7 linked regions of the Homo sapiens genome follow. The protein of the gene in region 7 interacts with the protein of the main gene of each other region in a biochemical or structural test. Each region holds a gene or a part of one and is shown on either strand. Other genes may lie near its edges.

Evidence for each region.
Region 1: the proteins of GJA1 (region 7) and DLG2 interact in a test that uses a peptide from one of them, tested with the Homo sapiens proteins (one large-scale study listed by IntAct).
Region 2: the proteins of GJA1 (region 7) and PDZK1 interact in a test that uses a peptide from one of them, tested with the Homo sapiens proteins (one large-scale study listed by IntAct).
Region 3: the proteins of GJA1 (region 7) and HTRA3 interact in a test that uses a peptide from one of them, tested with the Homo sapiens proteins (one large-scale study listed by IntAct).
Region 4: the proteins of GJA1 (region 7) and GRIP2 interact in a test that uses a peptide from one of them, tested with the Homo sapiens proteins (one large-scale study listed by IntAct).
Region 5: the proteins of GJA1 (region 7) and DLG5 interact in a test that uses a peptide from one of them, tested with the Homo sapiens proteins (one large-scale study listed by IntAct).
Region 6: the proteins of GJA1 (region 7) and DLG3 interact in a test that uses a peptide from one of them, tested with the Homo sapiens proteins (one large-scale study listed by IntAct).

What each region holds. Positions count from the first base shown.
Region 1 is NC_000011.10:85,617,345-85,620,844, forward strand, and holds part of DLG2 (disks large homolog 2), read right to left. Parts: intron 1-3,500. UniProt on the Homo sapiens protein: Required for perception of chronic pain through NMDA receptor signaling. Regulates surface expression of NMDA receptors in dorsal horn neurons of the spinal cord.
Region 2 is NC_000001.11:145,679,869-145,683,368, reverse strand, and holds part of PDZK1 (Na(+)/H(+) exchange regulatory cofactor NHE-RF3), read left to right. Parts: intron 1-732; coding exon 733-869; intron 870-2,261; coding exon 2,262-2,457; intron 2,458-3,500. UniProt on the Homo sapiens protein: A scaffold protein that connects plasma membrane proteins and regulatory components, regulating their surface expression in epithelial cells apical domains.
Region 3 is NC_000004.12:8,286,754-8,290,253, reverse strand, and holds part of HTRA3 (serine protease HTRA3 isoform 1 precursor), read right to left. Parts: coding exon 3,471-3,500; intron 1-3,470. UniProt on the Homo sapiens protein: Serine protease that cleaves beta-casein/CSN2 as well as several extracellular matrix (ECM) proteoglycans such as decorin/DCN, biglycan/BGN and fibronectin/FN1.
Region 4 is NC_000003.12:14,533,843-14,537,342, forward strand, and holds part of GRIP2 (glutamate receptor-interacting protein 2), read right to left. Parts: intron 1-3,500.
Region 5 is NC_000010.11:77,916,756-77,920,255, reverse strand, and holds part of DLG5 (disks large homolog 5), read left to right. Parts: intron 1-3,500. UniProt on the Homo sapiens protein: Acts as a regulator of the Hippo signaling pathway.
Region 6 is NC_000023.11:70,493,335-70,496,834, forward strand, and holds part of DLG3 (disks large homolog 3), read left to right. Parts: intron 1-41; coding exon of another isoform or gene 42-141; intron 142-2,073; coding exon 2,074-2,119; intron 2,120-3,500. UniProt on the Homo sapiens protein: Required for learning most likely through its role in synaptic plasticity following NMDA receptor signaling.
Region 7 is NC_000006.12:121,434,203-121,438,445, reverse strand, and holds the start of GJA1 (gap junction alpha-1 protein), read right to left. Parts: upstream 2,801-4,243; 5' UTR 2,614-2,800; intron 1-2,613. UniProt on the Homo sapiens protein: Gap junction protein that acts as a regulator of bladder capacity. A gap junction consists of a cluster of closely packed pairs of transmembrane channels, the connexons, through which materials of low MW diffuse from one cell to a neighboring cell.

The sequences.
Region 1 (3,500 bases), on a different chromosome or scaffold from region 7:
ACTTCTATTCATCTTCTGTATCTCATCTTAAATATTACATCTTCCCTAGTGGGATTGAGTGTTCCTTGTCTGTTTTCTTGACAAAGAGCGTTAACCTCACCACACAGCATTGAAATTGCCTGTTTTTGCATCTGTCTTCCTAATATATTTTAAGATTCATACAGGCAGAGATTGAATATCATTTGCTACTTCAAACATGCATCTGGCACTATGCCTGGCACATAGCAGGCACTCATAATACACCTTTGTTGAATGGATAAATGATTGAATAAATAAATGAAAGTAGAGTCATTGCCTTAAATATATACACCAGTTTACACCATATATACACCAGTTTACCTTTTAAAAGAATTTTAGCTTGTTTATTACCTATGAGAGATGTTTAAATAGAACAGAACTTAATAGGTTTATTCCAAGTATTACCATGCTTTTAATGATAAAGATGTCACAGTCCTTCAAAATGATAAGCCCCTGATAGAAGCTTCAAAATTGTATCCTAAATTAGGGCCTCAGTGGCTAGCAAAATGGTGTTACCAGAAGAAATGGGTTACAAAAATCTTACCCATAATCTTTGAAAGTTTAAATTTAATAATTCATTTTCACAGGATTTTCTACTTTATTATACTATACCATTCCTCTTGATCTTAAATCCTAAAATAAAGGAGGTCAGGAGAATCGTTTCATAATGAAGGTGATTTGGCCATAATTCTTGAAATAGCTTTGAAAACTTACTAAAAATTGAACCCATGCGGAAAGCTTATTAGTTGGAATTCAGAATGACTAACTGGACAGAAGAGACTGGATAAAACTCATGATCCTTTGCTGACAAAGCAACCTACATTGAGGATATAGAAATACTTGTGTCTTGACTGCCATAAATTCCTGGGCAAGAATTGTAGCTGGAGAACACATTCCCTTATCCCAATCAAAAAAAAAATCTCTCCCTTATACTAAAAAATATTTTGTAATCACTGACATGGTAACATAGTATTAAGAAATAAGCATATAAGGAGAATATATATTTAAGAAAGTATAGTATTCGTATAGTTCAGTAAATGTATTTTACAGAACAGTGAGAAATTTACTTATTGACAAAGGCATGAATGAACAGAATGCCTTAATCCAACATTTTAAAAACCCAATGTTTATCCCAGGCAAATTAACACAGAAACAGAAAACAAAATACCGCATGTTCTTACAAGTGGGAACTAAGAATTGGGTATACATGGACATAAAGACAGGAACAATAGACACTACGCAAGGGACTAGTGGGGCAAGGGCTAAAAAACCACCTATTGAGTACTATGCTCAATACCTAGGTGACAGAATCATTCATATCCAAAACCTCAGCATCACACAATATACTCATGTAACAAATCAGCACATGTACTCACTGAATCTAAGAAAAAGTTGAAGTTTTTTAAAAATAAATAAGTAAAATCCAATGTTTTGTGCATACCTCACTGACTAGATTCTTCTACCCACAAAAGTAAACAATAATAGGCCTAAGGGAGAAATCAAATATTCTATCATAAATAAAAACACTTGAGCAGATTTCCAAAAACCCAGAAGTTCACACATTTTCTAGTATCAAGTCATTAGCATATGCTTTGTACTCTCCCAATAGATATGTAAAATAAAATCAATTAACAGATCATTTTATCTCTACGTCTTCCTCACTAAGTTGCTTCATAGCAAACTCCTAATCAGTAGTTAAACACAAAAAGTATTCTTCTATTTCTCATTCTGGAATTCATTCTATTTATGCCTCCTGGATTAATTAATATTTTACAATATCAAGAGTCTATAGCTTATCCAAGGTCAAAATTGTCCCTACGGGGAATTTCTTTTAAAATAAAAAAGATATGGGATACCCAGGCTGGAGTTCAGTGGCACAATCACAGCTCACTGCAGTCTCAAACTCCTGGGCTCAGGCAATCCTCCAGTCTCAGCCTCCCAAGTAACTGGGACTATAGGCACATGCCAACAAGCCCAGCTAATTTTTTTAATTGGGGAATTTTAAATTAAAAAAAAAAACTTTAGTAAATTGTCTATTTTACTTTGACTTACAGAAAATGCAAAAGTTTGAAAACTGTGTTTTCCCATCTTTCTCTAGGATGATTCAGTGCTTAATTCTTTTGAGTTTTATGGCTGTGAAGAGATTAAAAAAAAAACTTGAAGTTTTGGAAAACAGAAAAAACATGTGCAGCCATATGCAGTGGCTCATGCCTGTAATCCCAGCACTTTCAGAGGTGGAGGCAGATGAATCACCTGAGGTCAGGAGTTTGAGGTCAGCCTGCCCAACATGGTGAAATCCCCTCTCTTCCAAAAATGAAAAAATTAGCCAGGCACAGTGGCAGGCGCCTGTAATCCCAGCTACTCGGCAGGCTGAGCCAGGAGAATCGCCTGAACCCAGGAGGTGGAGGTTGCAGTGAACCGAGATTGCGCAACTGCACTCCAGCCTGGGCAACAGAGCAAAACTCCGTCTCAAAAAAAAAAAGACAAGCTCTCCATATATTACTGGTATGGCAAACATGAAAATTCAAATACAAATTTGGTAAAATGCTTGCAAAAGGAATAAAATAACCACACAAGGCCACTCAATGAAGTCAGGTACAGGCATAGCTCATTTTATTGCACTTTGCTTTACTGCACTTTGCAGACAACACGTTTTTCACAAATTAAGTTTGTGACAACCCTGTGTCAAACAAGTCTATCACTGGCAATTTTCCACAGGATATATTCACTTCATGTCTCTGCGTCACATTTTGGTAATTCTCACAATATTTCAAACTTTTTCATTAGTCTTTTATTTGTTACAGTGATCTGTAATCAGTGATCTTTGATGTTCATTGTAATTGTTTTGGGGCGCCACAAATCATACCCACATAAGACAGCAAACTTAATCTGTAAATGTTGTGTGTTATCTGACTCCTCTACCAACTGGTCATTGCCCCATCTCTCTCCCTCTCCTCAGGTCCCCCTATTCCTGGAGACACAACAATATTAAAGTTAGGCCAATTAATAACTCTACCATGGCCTCTCAGTGTTCAAGTGAAAGGAAACGTTACACATTTCTCACACTCAAAGCTAGAAAATGATTAAGCTTAGTGAGGAAGTTATGTTGAAAGCTGAGATAAGCCAAAAGCTAGGCAGCCCTCTTGCACCAAATAGCCAAGTTGTGAATGCAAAGGAAAAACTCTTGAAGGAAATTAAAAGGGCCACTTCAGTGAACACACGAATAATAAGAGAGACACGCTTACTGTTGATATAGGGAAAGTTTTAGTGATCTGAACAGAAGATCAAACCAGCTGTAATTCCCCTCAAACCAAAGTCTAATCCAGAGCAAGGCCCTAACTCTCTTCAATTCTATATAGGCTGAGAGAGGTGAGGAAGCCACAGAAGAAAGCTGGAAGCCAGCAAAGGTTGGTTCATGAGGTGAAAGGAAAGAAGTCATCTTTACAACATAAAAGTGCAAGGTGAAGCAGCAAGTGCTGATG
Region 2 (3,500 bases), on a different chromosome or scaffold from region 7:
ATAATGCAGTGTGGGCATGTTTTAGCGCTTTCTGGTTCAAGGGGCCAAGGCCACCCAAGATTCCATCTTTGCATTTAGCTGACCTCAGAAATTCTATTCAAATCAACAAATACCCACTGAGTAAAGGCTGTGTCAAGTTCAGTGCCAGGACCTATAACTGTGATTTTAGATCAGAAGCCAAAGGCCGAGTTAGCTCTAAAATCGGAAGTTTGTTTCACATTATTGGGAGAAAAGTCTTTACCATTGGATTTCGAGTTTTTCTTTGCAATGGAGTGTTCTGTGAAAGGGTGGTGTATGCAAAGCAGTCCCTCAAAGGCCAAAGGAGCTGAGAAACCAAAGGACAAGGCAGGCAAATCCAGTTTGTTGGTACATTGGAATTTATCAGGGGAACTTACGAACAGAAGCATGGTCTTGGACAGCCACAAAACATGTAGATCTCTGTGTTACTCCCCAGACCCAAGGCTGATATACCATAGGGAAAGGGTATATGTGCTCCAGCAAGACAATCGAAGGCAGCCCTCCGCAATAGCCAAGAATGCTATAGTGCATCATAGCCTATAATTTGCGTGATAACATTAAGGTTGACATGTTCTTAGACTAGGGACAGTAAATGAAGTAGAAATCGGGAGGCAATCACAGGACTGGGGCTAATCAGAAGTCAACATCACAGATTACCATCCAAGAGGGAGTCACTTGTGTCTCCACATGGAGTTTACCCCTACTCTCTTCCAGGTAAAAAGGGGGTGTACATGACTGATATTACACCTCAAGGTGTGGCTATGAGAGCTGGAGTTCTGGCTGATGATCACTTGATTGAAGTGAATGGAGAGAATGTAGAGGATGCCAGCCATGAGGAAGTGGTTGAAAAGGTATGCCCCAAAGGGTACTTTTCTTACCCTATCTTCCACTCTATTCTCATTGGAGGTGACAGGAAGACAGGGGTGGTAGGGGACAGCATGAGTTTATGATGGAAAAAATATCCAGTTGAGTTGCCCCTTCATATTAAGGGTGAACAGACTCACACTAGTGGTATAAGCAGTGTTAATATAGGGTTTTGGAATAAAGCCTTCCCTAGTTTCACATGAGGTCTACAAAATTATTAACTTTACCTTTTGGATCTTGTTTGTATCTGATTGGGAGCCCCCTCTGAACTGTTTGATTGAGACAGGGTCTCACTCTGTTACCCAGGCTGGAGTGTAGTGGCACAATCTCGGCTCATTGCAGTCTCGGCCTCCTGGGCTCAGATGATTCTTCTACCTCAGCTTCCTGAGTAGCTGGGACTACAGGTGTGCACCACCGCACCTGGCTAATTTTTATGTGTGTGTGTGTGTGTGTGTGTGTGTGTGTGTGTGTGTGTGTTTTGTAGAGATAGGGTCTCACTATGTTGGCCAGGCTGGTCTTGAACTCCTGAGCTCAAGTGATCTGCCCGCCTTGGCCTCCCAAAGTGCTGGGATTATGGGCGTGTGCCACTGCGCCCTCTGAATTTACAATAAGTTCACTGTTGAGCCGTTAATACTGAAATGCTTTAATAGGAAGTGGGAGATAACCGAGATTTTCCTTTGAGGTCATATGGAACCTTAAAAATTGACCAACCTTCTCTTTGTAGAATGATTTTTTGACGTGGACCCTTACTTTCTTTTCTTTTCCAAACTCCCTTTCTAGCTTTTATCTAGGTACCTTTATGGGTTTTCTGAATTCCAGCTCCTACTTGGGCTCAGTTAGCACCTATGTGGGTAGGTCATACTTAAATAAGGGAAAACAACTATAGAAGTGGAGATAGGGGCCGGGCGCGGTGGCTCACGCCTGTAATCCCAGCACTTTGGGAGGCCGAGGCGGGTGGATCACGAGGTCAGGAGATCGAGACCATCCTGGCTAACAAGGTGAAACACCGTCTCCACTAAAAATAAAAAAAAAAAAATTTAGCCAGGTGCGGTGGCGGGCACCTGTAGTCCCAGGTACTCGGGAGGCTGAGGCAGGAGAATGGCGTGAACCCGGGAGGCAGAGCTTGCAGTGAGCTGAGATAGTGCCACTGCACTCCAGCCTGGGCGAAAGAGTGACACTCCATCTCAAAAAAAAAAAAAAAGGCGATAAATACATATCAGTTAGCTGGTAGGGCATAGTGTAACAGCTTAAACTCAGGCCTTTCATCCCCTATCTTTTGTTGAACCTAGAGACTGTGTGCCTTTATACAGAAACTTTCTTATTCCCCAGCATTGTTCTTGGGGGTTGATGTCATTCCTCATCTGTGTGTGTTGTTACAGGTGAAGAAGTCAGGAAGCCGTGTCATGTTCCTGCTGGTGGACAAAGAAACTGACAAGCGTCATGTTGAGCAGAAGATACAATTCAAAAGAGAAACAGCCAGTTTGAAACTGTTACCCCACCAGCCCCGAATTGTGGAGATGAAGAAAGGAAGCAATGGCTATGGTTTCTATCTGAGGGCAGGCTCAGAACAGAAAGGTAAGGTACAAGAGCAGGAAACTTGGCAGTAACCAGCAAATTCCTCATCCCATTCTGACTCCAGAGTTCCATTAGGTTCCCAACTCCCAGCCAGATGCATGAGCGGCATAGCATAGAAGGCACAGCTGGGTCAGCGTCTATGTCACATGAGGGTCTGATGTTGGGCATCAAAAGTTTCCATAGCATTATGATAAGGCAGAATTTGGGATCTGGGCAACGGTATCCTGGTAAGTTAGCTCTCTGGGGCGGGGGTGGGGGGAAATCCAAATTGGTAGCGTTTGTTTTTGGTACCAAATTGGTAGTATTTTGTGATGTAAATACTCCTCCCATGTCCAGTTTCAACTTACTAACACGATGTCACTGAACACAATGAAGTGTTGCACAGAATTGGCTTTTGTGAGCCGGTGTGAGCCAGTATAGCACACCGCTGGACCTGAGGCCGAGGTGTGGGTGAGGATTTGGGACTCAGAACCAGGAGTCCTCCTTCCTTGCAACTCAATAGGAAGAACACTAGGTTCTTTCAGGGAAGGTAAATACATAAAAGAACATGAGTTCGGGCCGTATAAACTGCTATTCGCCCATAAGTTGTTATTTTCTTTTCACTCTCTGTTTACATTAATTTATCAAATATTAATTTGGTTTGTGTTTTGTAAAAACATCCTCAGTGCCTTGGAGAAAGAATATCATATGAAGCAGACAGGAATTCTTTAGTGAAGGAGTCTACCATTTAGTAGATAAGAGATATGTCCATAATGAAGGGAGATAGAGGTTAAGTACCTTCATACAGGGGCAGATCAAGCACTGTGATAATTCAACGTTAGAGTAAGCTTTTCTCACTAAAAAGGTACCAGAAGCCCTCATAGTAGGGGTGGCACTTGAGTTCAGGCTTTGTAACATGAATAGATTTGGGAAAGTAGACAGAGCTGGGATAAGGAAGATCATTCCAGGAAGGTGGGAATCATGTGAACACAGTCAGGAGACACTGGCACAGTTTAATTGGCACATGATGTGTAGTACAAGAATTCGTTGGAAAGGTAGGTTGG
Region 3 (3,500 bases), on a different chromosome or scaffold from region 7:
CGACGTGGAGCCCCGCACAGGATTACGGGAGCCCTTGGTGGGCGGGCGCTGGTGTGGGAAAGACTCAGGCCGCTCCTCTATTCTCTGTGCTCAAGAAGCTTCAGTCAATGGCAGAGAGAATGCCAGGTGGCGGAACCAGGCCTGCACATTGGAAGGTGAGGGCCCGGAGAGATGACATTTTCCATTGCTGACCGGCCGAAGAGGCAGAAATAACGTCTGAAATCTCTGGGAGGCCGTGAACTGAGGAGGGTCAGCCCGTCCTCCCTGCACCCAAGGAGGGTGCACAGGTGAGGCCGTGAACTGGGGAGGGTCAGCCCATCCTCCCTGCACCCAAGGAGGGCGCACAGGTGAGGCCATGAGCTGGGGAGGGTCAGCCCATCCTCCCTGCACCCAAGGAGGGCGCACAGGTGAGGCCATGAGCTGGGGAGGGTCAGTCATCCTCCCTGCACCCAAGGAGGGTGCACAGGTGAGGCCGTGAGCTGGGGAGGGTCAGCCATCCTCCCTGCACCCAAGGAGGGGGCACAGGTGAGGGTCAGGAGCCTTTCCCATGGCTCGATTTAATGCCTAGGGGCTAGGAGGGCGTTTCCCACCTCAGCTCATGGCCATGGGTGCTGACCAGGGCCTGCAGGACATGAATCACACTAGCTCTGCTGGCACCCATTTGCCACAGGTGGCTGGTGGGGCGTCCTGCTCAGGCCCACCTGGATACCACCCCACCAGTCCTGCCAGCATTCTGCCACAGCCGCCGGAAGGGGAGACAGACCTGCCCCTAGTCTCGCTCTCCTCTTCCCACAGGGGTCCTCGAGCGGGGGTTGCAAACTGGCCCAAGGCCCAAACGCTGTCCATTGCCTGTTTTGTGAATCAAGCTTCACTGGAACGCAGCCACACCCACCTGTGCAGCCTAAGGCTGCATTTTTGCCACAGCAGAGATGCGTGGTTGTGACAGAGACCACAGGGCTTGCAAAGATAAAATATTTACCATTTGGCTTCATGGAAAATTTGTTGGCTGGGCACCATGGCTCACACCTGTAATCCCAACACTTTGGGAGGCCGAGGCAGGAGGATTGCTTGAGCCCACGAGTTCTAGACCAGCCTGGGCAATACAGCGAGACCCTATCTCTACCAAAAATTTAAAAATTAGCCAGGTATGGTGGTGCATGCCTGTAGTCCTAGCTATATGGAAGGCCAAGGTGGGAAGATCCCTTAAGCCCAGGAGTTTGACGCTGCAGTGAGCTGTGATTGTGCCACTGCACTCCAGCCTGGGCAACAGAGCGAGACCCTGAAAAAAAAAAAAAGAGAGAGAGAGGGGGAGGAAGGGAGGAAGGAAGGAAGGAAGGAAGGAAGGAAGGAAGGACGGACGGAAGGAAGGAAGGAAAATTTGGGGGTGGGGTGCAGTGGCTCATTCCTGTAATCCTAGCACTTTGGGAGGCCAAGGCAGGGGATCACCTGAGGTCAGGAGTTCAAGACCAGCCTGGCCAACATGGTGAAACCCATCTCTACTAAAAATACAAAAATTAGCTGAGGGTGGTGGCATGCACCTATAGTCACAGCTACTTGGGAGACTGAGACAGGGGAATTACTTGAACCTGGGAGGTGGAGGTTGCAGTGAGCCGAGATCCTGCTACTGCACTCCAGCCTGGGTGACAGAGCAAGAACCCGTCTCAAAAAAAAAAAAAAAAGGCTAGGCACGGTGGTTCACGCCTGTAATCCCGGTACTTTGGGAGGCCAAGGCAGGTGGATCACCTGTGGTTGGGAGTTCAAGACCAGCCTGACCAACATGGAGAAACCCCGTCTCTACTAAAAATACAAAAAAATTGGCCAGTGTGGTGGCACATGCCTGTGATCCTAGCTACTCGGGGGGCTGAGGCAGGAGAATTGCTTGAACCCGGGAGGCGGAGGTTGTGGTGAGCCGAGATGACGCCATTGCACTCCAGCCTGGGCAACAAGGGCAAAACCCCATTTCAAAAAAAAGAAAAGAAAATTTGCCAACTCCTGTCCGTGAGCACACCCCTCAGTGGGTTTCCTTAACTTTAAAATGGAGGTGATGCCCCCAGACTCAATCGCGACCGTGAAAAGTCTGAAAAGCAGGGAAGGGTCCCCATTAGGGGAACTCCTTGGAACCATTAAATCTCCTCTCCCTTGATGGGGCAAGAGGAAACCCCCTTGCAAAAGATTTCATCACAAATGCTGTAAACGTTCATTCAGAAAGAGAGGAAGCCAAATTCAAACCAGCCAAGGTGAACTTCCCAGTCCAAGGGAAGCTCCGGGTCCAACGCTGGTGTGAGACATGGGACTCAGTGACCTCATGGCATGGGGAGCTGCAAGTAACTCAACTGTGGTCCCCAGGGTCACATAAGCATGGCATTGGGCAAGACAAGAACAAGCTGGAGGGAGGCCGGGGTCCTAGCTGAGCGGGCCAGCCCTGCTCCAGTGCGCTGTGATCTTGGACGAGTTACCTAACTTCCAAGCCTCAGTTGCCCCGTCTGAAATCCCAAGATAATGAGGTCCCTGATATGGTTTGGCTCTGTGTCGCCACCCAAATCTCATGTCAAATTGTAATCCCCATGTGTTGGGGGACGGGCCTGGTGGGAGGTGATGGGATCATGGGGGCAGACTTCCCCCATGCTGTTCTCATGGTGGTGAGTTCTCACGAGATCTGATGGTTTTAAAATGTGTGGCATGTCCCACTTCACTCTCTCTCTCTCCGGCTCTGCCATGAGAAGATGTCCCTGCTTCCCCTTTGCCTTCCGTCATGATTGTATGTCTCCTGAGGCCTCCTGGTCATGCTTCCTGTACAGCCTACAGAACTCTGAGTCAACGAACCCTCTTTTCTTCATAAATGACCCAGTCTCAGGTAGTTCTTTATAGCAGTGTGAAAACAGACTCATACAGGCCCTTTCCTCCCAGGCCTGTGGTGAGAATTAGAGGAGTGCAGTCAGCGCCTGGCTGAGAGCAGGCCTTCCAGAAACAGCCGGTGGAGGAAGAAGAGGATTCTGGGGGCCTCAGTGCAGGCCTCTTCTGGGTCAGCTGGTGGGAGGTACAGACGTGAAGGTGGAGGGATGGGGTCCCTGTCCCAAGTGTTCCCCACGGCAGCCCCCTGGCCTCCACGCCCAAACCCAGATGCCATCCCATGGGGCAGGTGCATCCCCAGTAGTGGGCCCAGGTAAGACAGTGAAGAGCCTCCGTGGGGTGTGATATGGGACCACAGCCCACCCACTGTGGGCCACATGCTTCCTGGCTCTGCCCTGCACCTAGCGGCTCAGGGAGCGCAGGACAAGGAGTCCAAAGACCTGGGTTCTAGGTCTTTTCCAAGCCGTGACCCTGGGCCAGCTGCCAGTCCTCCCTGGGCCCAGTTTCCTCCCCCTGGCTGATGGAAGGTGGGGCTAGCTTGCCTCTGGGTTCCGGCGTCTGGGAAGAGGCCACCATGCCCAGCCCCAGGTGCTTCCGCCCCTCCACCCACGCCCACCCACCTTGGGATGGATCTTGATGGTGGCAATGTC
Region 4 (3,500 bases), on a different chromosome or scaffold from region 7:
GGGGTTCAGCCTGTGAGCCATCTCTTTTCCCAGCTGTCAGAGACTTGACTGCGTGCTGCAAAACAAGTCATACTACTGTGCGCAAAGAGTCAGTGGGCAGCAGGCGAGGCCTCGAGAGACTTCCCTAGGCATCTCAGGGTGTGCCCTTGGTGGCCTCTTGTGGAAGTCAAGAAGCCATTCTTGATAGGCGAGTTGCCAGATGAGAGGCTTCTGAGCACCCAAGACCCCCTGGCATAGTCAGAAAGGTGCCCGGAAGGAATGCTGCAGTGTTTGCTGATGCCTATTCAGAGGGGACATAGGGCCTCTCTTTCACGAACATCCTCAGATGGGGGGGAACTGAGGCAGCATCCAAACCAAGAATCAAAATAGGGTTAGAATTACAATTGGCTGTGTGACTCGAGCCTCCATTTTCCCCTCTGTAAAATGGGGGTGTCTCTCCCATGGCTGACTCCAGCTGGCCAGAGCTTGAGAAGTTGAGGGGATTACTTTATTTATAGAAAACCCCTTGGGGGGGTCAGACCCTAGGCCCCCTCCTCAGAGAACATGCTTGCTCTCTCCCACTCTCTCTTTTTTGTTCCAGGACCTGGTAATTATATGCTTAGAGATGAAGGCTTTTCAAAAACATCTTTCCCACCAATTTTCAGCTGGAAACGTGCATAAAAAACAGAGATATTTTTATCCATGTTTTTTTTTTTCCCTGTCTCCTCCTTCCAGCAACGGGCAATTATGAGCTTTTGCCTTCAGTCAATCGTCCTGTAGGAACTCGCTTCAGAGGAAAATTCATTTCCGCAGTGGTGCCAGCCAGTCCCGGCGAATGTGGGGTGTGCAAGTCAGGGGAGGAGGGACAGAGGGAGAAACGTGCTTGGAGCTCAGACCTGTGCACCTGGTACTCAGGCCCACGCTGCAGCCGGGGTGGGTGGCCTTCTTTTTTATTTTATTTCTCTTGAAATCATGGCTAATTTGCCTTCATTATCTCCCGCTCTCTGGGGCCTCAGGGGGCTATTGAGCTTTGACAAAGGGAAAAGGAAGTCAACTCCTTGCCAGGCTGCCTTCGCCAGGGTCCTGCCTAAGCGGGTGGCTGGAAAGAAGCGTGGGGGAGTGGGTGGGACTATAAAGTCAGCCGGCTTTGACTGCTGCCCTGTTCTGTGAGCCTCCTGGAGGGAGGACTCAGCATCTCAAAAGGGACCACTGAGAAAACAAATGCCCAGAGGCTCCACTTGGGGCGAACAGGACATGATTTGCAGGGACGGTGAGCTGTCGGCCAGGACCATGCCAGCTCACCGGGACCCTGGGTGCTGAAGAGGACATGGGCGCTAAGTACTCCACCAAGTGACGGTCCAGCCCCAGCCAGCTTCGCCCCACCATGGAAGGGATTGTTGATATGGTGGGAAGGGAGGGATAGGCTTTGGAGTCAGTCCAACTTGGGACTTTGATTCTAAATCGGCTGCCAACTGGCTAAGGGATCTGGGACAAGTCACTTCTCTCTGAGCCTCAGACTTCTCCTCTGCAAAATGGGGGTACTGGTGCCCACCTCATGGGTTGCTGGGAGGAACTGTGGGGAAGTGTGCACAGAAACCATAAAACATGGCAGTTCCCTCCCTGCCTGCTTCCCTCACCTTGTTGAAAGGTTTTCCTAGATCAATCATGATGATGGCTCCTAGTGATTAAGTGCTGGTTTCTGTGCTTCCTAAGCACGATCTCATTTAATCCTCACCACTTTTGAGGCGGTATAATCATGATTCTCATTTTACAGATGAGGAAACTGAGGCACAGAGAGGTTAAGTGATATCCCATGATAAAGGGCAGGGCCAGGGTTTGAACCCAGGCCTAATGAGGCACAGAGAGGTCAAGGGAACTGCCCAGGGGCACAGAGCTTCTAAGTGGCAGAGCCAGGATTGAAGCCCAGGCCTTCTGGCTCCCTAAGGGGTCTGGCCCTACCCTCTGGGTACCTTCCTGCCTACTCCCCCATCCATGCAAGCCTGGAAGTTGCTGTAATGCCTGCAGCCCCGGGGCTGTTCGGCTCCAGGCAGAGCCCCAGCTCCTTTGGGCGTTCCTCCCTGGCCACTGAGGGCTGGAACAGGCCAAGGGCTCGATGGAGATGCCTCAAAGCCAGTTACAGGCTGACCTCTGAATGACAGTTCCAATCCCCACGGGCGACAAGCCTCCCAGGAAGCCCAGCTTCCATGGGGAGAGCAGCATAGAAAGATCAGATAAGCTCGGCAGAAGCACGTTTTTCAGGGAGACAAAAAGAAATGCATCAATACATTTAAAAATTTGAAGCCTCATTCATTTGTTGCCAAGGATTGCAAAGAAAAAAATAAAGAACCTTAATAAGTAGCACCCAGTGTTGGGCCCTTCCCTGGGCCAGGCCTGCTCTAAGCACTTTATGAATGCTAAGTCAGTTAATTGTCCTAAGAACCATGGAGGGAGGCTCACCGATTGTCCCCAGTTTACAGATAGGGAGCCTGAGGCCCAGAGAAGCCACTGAGCTGGTGAGCTGCAGAGGCACCTGGAACCCAGGGCTCCCTGACCTCACAACAGACCATGCCCTGAACCCTTGGCTCTGCTCTTTCCCTCCAAACAGGAGGGCAACAGACCCCAAATGAGAAGCATCAGGGCACTGGGAAGGTGACAGCTCCAGTATCCCAAGAATACCTAAGTTAGGGCTCAGGCACTCACAGGCTGGGTGCATCAGGGCTAGCAGGACCCATGGCATCACCTGGAGAGGCCGCCACCCCCACAATCCTCCTCCACACAGGGAGAGGGGCTCCTGTCCAGCAGGCCTGAGCCACACGCAGGCCAACATCCCACCATGGGAGAGCGGGGGCGCAGTCTCAAGTTGGGGGTTGGCCTTCTGCGTTCTGGGTCCTGCTCTCCTGCCCTACTCTAAAACCAGCAATGTCAAGGAACGTGACCTCAAAATCAGGGTCACCCACAGAACCATTCAGTTTCCCAATGGCGGCTGCCTGCAGTCACAAGAAGACTGTGTCTAGCTCAGGGAGAGTAGAAGCAGAAGTCCTCACCACAACTGTCAGTCCCCGGTCCCCTGACTTCACCTCCTGATGCTCGCCCTGGCCAGCTCCACTCCAGCACACTGCATTTTCTCACTTAATCCTCATAACCACACTGCCACTTGGGCACTGTTATTCTCCCCATTTTACAGCTGGGAAAACTGAGGCATGGAGATGCTAAGTGACTTGTTCCTGGTTACACAGCCAGAAGTGACAAAGCGGAGATTTGACCCTATGGGCCCACCCCACCTTGGCAACTGCACTCTAAAGGGAGGTGAAGCCTTCCTGGACACATCTGTCCTTTCGACCCAAGGCCCACCAGACTCACATCCCCCTAGGGCCTTTGCATCGGCTGTTCCCTCTGCCCACAAAACTCTTCCCCAGACATCATCAAAACTCCCGTCTCAGCTCCTTCGGGAACTTGTAGAAATGTCACCTCCTCAGGGAGGCCTTCCCCATCCGCCTGTTGGAACTTACACACGCACCCTG
Region 5 (3,500 bases), on a different chromosome or scaffold from region 7:
TGTGCTATTTGACAATCCATGGTAGGAAAAATGGAAGAGCATTTTGTTACCCTGAGTAATATAGCACAACAGTGGCAGTAGTAGACAGCAACTAGCCTTAGAACCAGAAAACTGGGAATCTCCTGGTGTTTCTGAGGGTTCTGTGGGAGCTCCTTGTATACTATGCCAAGCAGGTGTCAGAGCTGTCCTCCCTGAGCTGAATTTGCTGTTATAGTCCTCATGCCCAGAATAGAGCCTAGTACAAGATAGGTGTTCGATAATTTTTTGTTGAACGAATGAATAGTCAGCTGTGTGTAGAGTGAATGATGTATCCTTGTCCAGATCATCTTCAAATATACATGCAGATTCCTAAGTGGTGACCTCATGGTGGCAGAGGCTGTGGGAGAGGAGGAAGGCTTGAGCAAGCCCCAGATGTACACAGGGATATCACCGCCCACGGTATGTCTGTGATGGAAGCAGGTGGTGTGACATTGATGTCTGAAGTTCCCAAGGTTGCCCATCAGGTACTGGTGGTGTGGAGCTGGCTGCCAGGAGCCATGTGGAGCACCCACGCTGTCTAAGAGTAGAAAGTCATTCCCTTTCTACACATAGAATTTGAATGTCAACTTGATGTCCTCAAAAGAATACTGAGGAACTTTTCTTTAAAAAAAAAAAAAAAAAAAAAAAAAAAAGCCCTGAACTGGAGATCTGTTCCTAACTGCAAAATCTTGACCTTGGCAGAGCCTTTTAGCTTCCTGGTGCTTGTTTTTTTTTTTTCCCCCAGTTCAACAGTCAAAACAGAAGAGGTTGAGCATTGACGGGAGACTTGCTCATTCCTGTGGGGTTTTGAGCACTTCCCAGGTGGCATTTGGTCCAAGGAGGTTGGGTGATTGGGTTGGACTCGATTTTGGGGGCCCTTCCAGCTCTACATCAGGATTGCTGTTAATCTGATTTAATGTTAGTGTTGAGTGGTTTTTGATACTCTGGTTTTCCATTTCCTGAAAAAGTAAGCAGAGTAGGATAAATATTTTGTTTCAGTTTTTTTTTTGTTTGTTTGTTTTGAGATGGAGCCTTGCTCTGTCGCCCAGGCTGGAGTGCAGTGGTGCAATCTCAGCTTACTGCACCCTCTGCCTCCCAGGTTCAAGTGATTCTCTTGTCTCAGCCTTCCGAGTGGCTGGGATTACAGGTGTGTGCCATCACCCCCGGCTAATTTTTATATTTTTAGTAGAGACGGGATTTTGCCATCTTGGCCAGGCTGGTCTCGAATTCCTGACCTCAGGTGATCCGCCTACCTCAGCCTCCCAGAGTGCTGTGATTATAGGCATGAGCCACCACTCTCGGCCGTTGTCTCATTTTTTTTTGTCCCACCTCATTCCAACCACCTGTATGTTCTGCCCCATGCGAGGGGGCTCTATAGTCGTTTCCTGAAACCCTGGGAAGATGTGAGCCACAGAGGTAGCAAACATAGAGAAAGAGGGCTGAGCTGCGTGTTGGCCTGGACAGTAGGGATGCTATGTGTGTTCAGCAGGGAAGAATCTTAAATGGGATTGCGCTGGGGGGAAATTGGATTTTTTTTTCGCCTTTTACCTGGGATAGACTGCATTCCTCTGAACGGTGTATCTCTATTGATCTTTTTGAGACTGCGTTCCACAAAAGTGCTACAGAAACATTTTAAACCAAATAGAGATGTTTGGAGCGTCCCATGTTGGCAGTCTATCCCTCTAAACCCTTGGTAGATAATTCCTGTTGACCTTGACGTTCATTTCACACTAAGGCTCATAACCCATTTGCTTTGAGGATTTAAACAAAATTGTGATAATAATTTACATAACATGAAATTTACCATTTGAACCTTTTTTTTTTTTGATACAGAGTCTCACTCTGTCACCTAGGCTGGAGTGCAATGGTGCGATCTCGGCTCATGCAACCTTCGCCTCCCCAGTTGCAGCAATTCTCCTCCTTCAGCCTCCCAAGTAGCTGGGACTACAGGCATGTGCCACCACACCTGGCTAATTTTTTTGTATTTTTAGTAGAGACAAGGTTTCCCCATGTTGGCCAGGCTGGTCTTGAACTCCTGACCTCAAATGGTCCGCCCACCTTGGCCTCTCAAAGTGCTGGGATTACAGGCGTGAGCCACCGCACCCGGCCTTGAACCATTTTTTATTGTGGAAAAATATATATAACATTTACTATTTTAATAACTTTTTAAGTGTACAAATTCAGTAGCATTAAGTTTTTTGTTTTTTGTTTTTTTTTTTGAGACAGAGTTTTGCTCTTGTTGCCCAGGCTGGAGTACAATGGCATGATCTCGGCTCACCACAACCTCCGCCTCCTGGGTTCTCCTGCCTCAGTCTCCCGGGTAGCTGAGATTACAGGTGCCCACCACCACGCCTGGCTAATTTTTGTATTTTTAGTAGAGACGGGGTTTCACCACGTTGGCCAGGCTGGTCTCGAACTCCGTACCTCAGGTGATCCACCCGCCTCGGCCTCCCAAAGTGCTGGGATTACAGGCGTGAGCCACTGCGCCCAGCCAGCATTAAGTATTTGTACACTGCTGTGCAAACATCAGCACCATCCATCTCTAGAAATTTTTCATCTTGCAAAATCGAAACTCTGTACCTATTGAATAATAACTACATGGCCCCCTAGACCTTGACAGTCACCATTATATGAATATTTCCTGTCTGTCTCTTTTTTTCTTTCTTTCTTTCTTGCTGTCTTTCTCTCTCTCTCTTTCTTCTTTTTTTTTTTTTGGAGATGGAGTCTCACTCTGTTGCTCAGGCTGGAATGCATGGAGTGCGGTGGTACTCATGGCTCACTGCAGCTTCAACCTCCCATGCTCAATTGATCCTCCCACCTCAGCCTCCCGAGTAGCAGGGACTATAGGCACATGCCACCACACCCAGCTCCTTTTTTTGTTTGTTTGTTTTTTTTTGAGATGGAGTCTCGTTCTCTTGCCCAGGCTGCAGTGCAGTGGCGCGATCTCGGCTCACTGCAAGCTCTGCCTCCCGGGTTCACGCCATTCTCCCACCTCAGCCTCCTGAGTAGCTGGGACTACAGGCGCCCGCCACCATGCCCGACTGATTTTTTGTTTTTGTATTTTTTTAAGAGACGGGGCTTTGCCATGTTGCCCAGGCTGGTCTTGAACTCCTGGATTCAAGCGATCTGGCCGCCTTGGCCTCTCAAGTTGTCCGTTTCTAGGAATTTGACTACTTTAGGTATCTTTTATAAGTGAAGTCAATACAGATTTGTCTTTTTGTGACTGGCTTACTTCTCTAAGCATAAAGTCCTCAAGGTTCATCCATATTTTAGTATATGTCAAAATTCCTTTTTTAGGCCGAATAATATTCATATATATATATATATATATATTCTATATTTTATTTGTTTCTTTACCTGTTGATGGACACATTTGGGTTGTTTTCACCTTTTAGCCATTGTGAATAATGCTGCTATGACACCATGGGTGTACAAATATCTCTTCGAGTCCCTGCTTTCTCTTCTTTTGGGTTTATACCCAG
Region 6 (3,500 bases), on a different chromosome or scaffold from region 7:
TTTCTTCTGTCCTTCCCCTCCATCTTCATGTTCTTTCACAGTCGATCAAAACGAAACGTAAAAAGAGTTTCCGCCTCTCTCGAAAGTTTCCATTTTACAAGAGCAAAGAAAACATGGCCCAGGAGAGCAGCATACAGGAACGTAAGTAGCAGCAGAGTCCAGAGAGCAGGCCATCTGCAGCCCCATCCTCTCATCCTCAGTTGCCCTTCCCTCGAGAGAAGCCTGGGCAGGGCCACGTGTGGCCTCGTGCCTGCCTGTGTGCGTGTGCACCTGCTTATCTACAGAGTCAGGGCAGAAACTGGTCTGCCTAAGGAGATGTTGGGTTTTATTTGTCCTGCTCCTCAGTTAGAATGAATGTTGGAGGCACTGAGGTGGGACTGGTCCCAGGGTCAGCCTCCAGGAAGTGCCTGGCACTAGCAGTGGAAGTGCCAGACAGAGCTCTGCTGTGGTGGTGAGGAACGGTTTTTTAGCTAGACTGTCAGGGTCAGGAAAATGGTTTTTCAAGAGAACAAGGTCTAGGGACTCAGTGTTGCTCTCCTGGTTTCTTCCTCTTGTGTTTTCTTTCCCTTAACTTCACTCATGTATGTCAAGAGAAGAGCCTTTTCTTCCCAGGATCCCTGGAGTTGGGGCTACTTCTGGAATCCCATGCACGTGCATAAGCATACAGGATATCCACACAACTCTCAGCAGACTCGCTGTCATCCTAGAGTGCCTACAGAGCCAGTTTTCCCAGGAGAATCCTTCCTGCTTAAATGAGTTGACATGGAAGGAGTGTTGCTCCACATTGTTCAAATAAAGATCTATTGAGAAACACAAAGTTGGTTCGGTAGGAAGAGCAGTCACACTGAGCTAAATTCAACGGAAGAAGAAATTTAATCCTGATAAATCTTCTTGCTCTACCGTGTGCCTCAGCAATTAACTGCTCCAACCTTAACCTTAAACACCAGGTCTGGCTTGAAAAATGTCTTCTCACTTGTCTCATCATGAACAGTAAACATCTCTCATTTACCAGTGACTCCTCTGTCTTACATGGAGGGATCTTGGGGTCTTGGTCTATTGGGGCTGGCAGGAGACTGACTGGTTCTGATAGGAAATGTCCTTCTGTCAGGCCAGCTTGGTCCACAGTCATGGTATGTGTAAGTCATTGCTATCTGGGGTGGTACCTGGTGGACAGAAGGGTGCCCTCATCTAGATGGCAGCCACGGCTCATCATCCTGGAGTAGTTCAATGAGAAGCCATAGACGGGGTGGCTCTGCTCATGAGCAGTTAGGAGACAGTCTGAGTCAGAGGCCTGAGGTGATGTCACCATAGTTTCATCAGATGAGTCCCAGAGTCCCTCCATGCCAAGCCCAGCCTGGGGAGGTGTTCATTGCTCAGTGGTCCCGCCTGGTGGGCGAGGGGGTATCTACTGGATGACAGAGTTGAAGGTGCCTAGTGCTTCTCCAGAAGCTGAGCTCATCCCCCAAGATCTGTCCAGCTCAGGGCAGCTTTGGAGGCCACACTCTACACCATGCGAAACTTTTCCTGAAGGGTTTGAACAGAGTGAATCAGTATTGGGCAAAGGCTTCTTGAGGTGATGGCAATTCTATCTGCCTACCTGGCACACGCGGACATTTGCTCTTTCACGCACTGCAGAGGGAAATGGTGATTTCAGGGGCAAACAGAGACCTGGGCTCCACAACCAAAATTTAGTCAAAGCAGGTGCTCTAAGCCTTGGAGTGTCACCTGTCCTGTCCCATTGGCCTACAGCTGTAGACACCTCAGAAAGCTAGTCTACTCCAAGGCCCTCTGGCAATGAATTGGGCAGCATGAAGTCTTGATGTCTTATCTGCCCTGGGATGTTCTTTCTGTGGCAAAGTTCCTGGCCTCACTATAGTGCTAGGTCTTCATGGTGTTTCATAATTCTGTCACTAGTGCTCACCTACCTCTGTATTCTTCCTCCCCCCTTGTCTTTTTCTCTATTTTTTCTCTTCTCCCCAAATCTCTCCCTCTCTTCCATTCCCTCCCATCCCTTCCCCTTCCCCCCTCTTCTCCCCGTCGTCCTCTCTCCGCCCTTGCTGTCTGTGAAATCAGGACTTCCCGGGGTTAAGTGACGATTATTATGGAGCAAAGAACCTGAGTAAGTCCAACTTACACACCGTTCACTGTACTTGTGGCATGAATGGAGATAGTGGGGGTGGGGCTATTGGGGACATGGGTGAGGGTGAAGGGTGAGGGGAGGGCAGTGTTTGTGAGCACTCTGACATCACAGCAGGAAGAAGTGCATGTGGCTCCATATGTTACATGTTTGCTATGGATCCCTAGTACCCAAATAAGTCCATATCATTCATGCCTTTGTTTACCTTTTGCTACTCAAAGTGGGAGGGCGTGAGCATGGCATCCCACCTTAGAAGTGAAGTAAGCTTGAAATGTTTCTCCAAGGTAACCACTCAGCTAATCTCTAGCCTATTGTCGAAGGGAGGGGTGCCTGCTGGTTGGATTCTTCTCCCAGTGATACCACGCTAAAGAATTGGGTGTAGGAATTGCAGCTGTTAACAGTCCTCTAACTAGGGGCAAGGGTACTGTGACCCCTTTTTCCCAACCTGCATCTGAGATGTCCCAGCAGATCCCGGGCCTCAGCAAACAGCCACTGTTTGGCTTCCCACAGAGCACCTGTAAGGGGTTGAGCTGGTCTGCTAGGGGCCTCAGCATCATTTATGGACCATATATAGTTAGTGCTTTATCTCAGGAAAACTCCAACCTCATTTTCCTTTCTGGAAAAGAATCCTGGAGTGGAAAATGAAAAAGACCTAGATGATGAGGCCTTAGTGGCCATCCTGCTGCGTGCAAGGGTGCACAGACACCAAATGGGTTCTATCAGCATATACTCTCCTTCAATAAATAATACAGACCAAAGGCAAAGGAGTTGCCCATGGGGATTGTTCAGGAACTAGCCATGTGTGGCAACTCAGCCAGTCCTTTCTGGGTGGGGGGGCCACAGCATATCATGGTCTGGAACAGTGTGGTCTTGGCTGAAATGAGCAGCATCTCTCTCCATAGTTTGGTGTGTCCATGTCTCATCTTCATTCGCGTGTCATCTTGGATGGGCGGGCTTTGTTTGTGCCTCCTACGAGCGCTGCTCCTCCGCCTGAGCTTTCTTTTCCCTCACCACTAAGAGATGGGCAGATCCCAGCTGTGTGAGACAGGAGGGCTGCCTTGTCCTCAAGGTGTTTTTGTTGGTTTTGTTGTCTGTGTTTTGACATATGTGTCTGGTGGTGGATGGAGATGCTTCCCCTCTCACCACTGAAGCCAGGCTCTCCTGCTTTGGAGTGGTGGCAGGAAGGCTGGGGAGCCCACCGAATGGTCAGAGCAGCGCTCCCTGGTGTCTGCTTAACCCATCCAGCGTTTGGCCTCTTAGTTGTGGAGTGCCACATGGTTCTGTACTTCAGGGGCTCTGTTGGGCGGGGGACACCCATGAGCAGACTGGTCCCTGGACTTCTCTTTGCTCCTGTCACTGTCTT
Region 7 (4,243 bases):
TCTAAGTAACAAAGCAACCTTCAGTATCTGAAAGCACAGCCTTTTATCTGCCTCCTGCGGAGCATCTTTGCAACCATGTTTCCCAAGGAGGGTGACAGCATTGTTGGTATCACAGTCGCCAAGGGTGAGGAACTCAGTGGCTGGGTTGAGAACCCTCAGAAGGCATTAGAAAAATGTGGAACATGTTTAAACAGTGAAGAAAGTAGGAGCAAAGCACTAACACTGCATTTTCCCAGGTAACCAGTCTACCCTGACTTTGGGAAGTACAAAGCACCCCCACACTGGGGGAACAATGTTCTAATAATATAGAATCAACATCGCCAGGACGGAATGGAATGTACTGCCTTTGCTTGGTATAATTTCCAGTCAATTCGGCCTACCCAGAAGTAATTAGTCTTCTCCCAAAAGTGTTTTCTGTCTAACTGGCTTATTTCATTCCTGGCGCGGGGGGGAGGGGAGCGCTCGCTTAATGAAATCTCTGCATTACTAGACGCTTTAATTTCCAGTTATCCTTGCACAAAAGTAAACATTAGGCTTCCTCACAGGGACACTTTTCACCGAGTTCAAATGCGCCCGATTTTCGGAGGGCGATATTCAGTATCTTTCTTGTCGTTACTAACTGGGTCGAGGAAGCAAAAGAAATTCAACCGTCTTCCAAATAAAGCCACGCTTCTTTTTACAACATTGTGTAGCTCTCCCCTTCCCACCCCTACTTTGTACCTGGAGAGAAAGAGAAGCACGCCTTTTGGGAGCAAGGAGAGCTTATCGATGAGCGTTATCAGAAACCCCCAGCAAAGGCTGGCTGGGTCACTAAAGGGGCAGGGTGGGCGCAGCGCTGCTACGACCGTGAGGCGCGCGTCTCGGAAACAGGCTGACTTGCCCCGGACGCGTCATCAGCTTCCCGAGGGTCTCTCCTCCCTGCCCTTTCCCCTTGAGCCGCCCCGCCTCATTCTCGGGAAGTTTCAGGAACTTCCAGGGGAGTTGCAAGTGCAATTTAAGCACAATTCCCAAGGTATTCAGGTTTTCTTACCAACGCGGAGATAGTGGGATTCAGCAAGTTTAAGAGGAAAAAAGAAAAAGAAAAAAAAAAAGGGCTGGTGTGAGAGGGATGGGAAATTAGATTGACAACTTTAATTAAATCAACCATTTGTTCTACCATTTGGCACCCAGCCCATCTCTCCTCCTATCCCTCCCACCCCGCACCCCGGGTTCCTTTGCAGTGACGAACTCGGACCTGAGTTCGATTTGACTTGTGAGGATTTGGGGGAAACGTCCCAAGACCGAGCTGGTTCGGGCAGCGAAGGCGCGGGAAGGATCCCGGCAGACGCTAAGATGGCAGGAGGCGCCCCGCGCCCGTCCGGCCCACGGCCTCCGCAAAGCTTTCATTTTTATTTGCTTTTCAGCATTCACTGGTGCAAATACTTCCACTGCAGGGTCACGTCAAGAATCTAAACTAATTATTTTAGTTTGTAGATTTACACAGAACAGAAAATCTTTACCGGGCACAAAAATGCATGGCTGCATTTCTGATGAACAGAATGGGTGTTACCAATAAAAGTATTTTAAAAATTGAACCCTTTTAAACAACGCATTAGCGTTATCTTTGCCCTAGGAGCTCCAACTCCAAAGAACTGCCCCAGAGTTCTGAATTCTGTTACAGGTTCGAGCAGAGGGAAGGTGCGGGGCGGCGGGTGTTGGCGGGGGGAGCTCCCAAAGCGCTGTTTAAGAAAGTTTTTTTCCTGCTCTTTCTAGGAGCTCCCGTTTTAGGAGACGGTTTTGGAAAAGTACCCTGGCATACACTCTTTTTTAAACGTCTGATCTCTAATGCTCTGTAACTAGCCACCACCCATTCAAGAGATTTCATCTCCTAAACTGCCAACGTGGTCGAGTAAAAGCTGTCTCTCCTGAGGGTCTCAAATCTTTCCATAGCGGTTGCTAACACAAAGTAACAATTTACTGTTGATTTTTAAAGCATAATATTAATACTCTTGAATTTTATACCTTTTTGTTTAATGGGGAAAATTCTAGGAAGGAACCACGTGGAAGTCAAGTAACCACGATGTTTTAACAAAGCACTTCGTCACAAAAGAAGTTGGCTTTGCAAAGCTATAGAACATCAATCAAGATTTCCATATGAAAAAAGCACTTTATTCTATGAAGTGTAGAATACTATAGGAAGCACGCTAAGCAAATTTGCACTTTGATTTTTCCGATGTAGTCAGTCAAATCCCCCAACCCAGGCGCCTAACCGCCCCCCCCCCACCCAACAAATGATAGCACCTAGACTATTACTGATTACAAAAAAAAAACAAAATAAAATGATACTCTAAAATGAAAAACCAAACATCCAGTAAACTAATCCTTTATTCTAATCGGAAAGGTTTGAACCTTTTCACCTGTTGCAATGTTAATAGAAACTTTTTTAACAGTCAAAATATATATTTGGTACAATAAATTTTAACTTTAAAACTATAGAAACACTTTCAAATCCATCAATCCATTTACAGTATCATAATTCAAAATTACATTTAACACATTTTAAAACTTTAGAAAAGTTTTACTTGTAGAAAAAGAAACTAATAGGTAACGTGTTCTCATTTTTTAAAAACTTACTCTTTTGCTTAAAAGTAGTGAAGTCACGCCAAGTGATTGAACTCCTTGGAGGATGAAGTAAAATGAAAAGGCAAGTTCAGGCACTCAGACCTGTCTATTTAAAGTTTAAAACTCCGCTGCTGTTTGGTACTTTCCTCACGCCTTCCCCCTAATGAAAGAAAAGTGCTGATACCTCGTAAAAGCTTTTTTGTAACTTGGAGCACAGAGCTTTTAAAAGTTTCAAGCCACTGACTCAACTGGGAGGAGGGGCTAGAAGAAAGGGGAGGGCAAAGGGAAAGGCTGGGAGGAGGTAGGGAGGAGGCTGGTAAATGTGGAAGGGCTGGGGGGAGAAGAGGCAAAGAGCAGCAGTGGGATCAGGATAAAGTTGTAGTTTAAATTTGCTGATGAGGAAAAATAAAAAAGCATTAGGGACATGAACGCCTCTACTTGGAGTTGCTCCTCACACATAAGAATCATTGATTACACTGCTTGCTTCACCAGAAGACCAGGGATAATGGGGGAAAAAGGTGTATATTTTTATTACAACATTGTCTAAAATTTTTAAAGTAGCTTACAATAAATAAAAATGGTGGGGAAGCATATAACCAGTTCAAGCTTGTTTCACATTGACCAAGGTGTGTGAAGTTAGAGGTAGGTGTGAGTGACCTGTTTGATGATCTAATTCCCTTCCTTTAAATGTAAGCAAGGACAATTAACAAAGGGAATGGTGGAGATGGGAGAGAGATTTCAAAAATTGACATAGATGAAGAAAAGTCCATACCCAATCCATCTTTCAACCCCTTGACTGCTTTGAATTTTTACTTTCTTTCAGTTTAGCAAAAGGCTGTGTGTGTATATACATTTTTTACATATATAGCATGTTTTGTTTGCCTATGAAATCTTGATATCTGACCTCTACCATGTCTCCAGAAAACTAAGAATTTATATTAAGGCCCTATTTATGCCAAGACACTAAAACCCAAATCTGTAGTGAAATGTGAGGATTTTAAAAATACAGACTATGGTTGCATTAAGTAGGTTCCCAAACTATTCAGCCCTCCTTAAAATCAGTTCCCCCTCTCAAGCCCACTAGAGAGTTTTCTGCCCAACGACAGTAAAGCTGAGCATATCATCTTTATGTGCTTCCCTATCCCCTTCCAAATGCTCTCCCTCTTCAGGGCTCTGCATTAGGGTTTATAATGGCCTGAGTCATGTGGCCTCAATCTTAGAGCAGGCAGCTCCTCTGAGGGCTTCCCAAATGCCATAACACAGTGTTGTGGTAGGACAATTCCTCATAAACAGGCTTCAGTGATGCTCCTGAGGTTGGACAGGAAATTTCTTGGCCAGTATTCTCTGGAGGGAAAGCAAACTCATCTGGCCTTCCTATTCCTAACACTTTTCTCACTCAGGCAAATACCAGAAAAAAGAAGGATGCCAAATATATTCTGGTAGACACCGTTCCCTAATTAAACTTTCACTGAAATGACTAATATAACATCTTTTGAAATGTTGCAGGTTTTTTTTTTTCTTTTCTGAGACGGAGTTTCGCTCTTGTTGCCCAAACTAGAGTGCAGTGGCGCCATCTCTGCTCACCGCAACCTCCGCCTTCCGGCTTCAAGTGATTCTCCTGCCTCAGCCTCCTGGGTGGCTG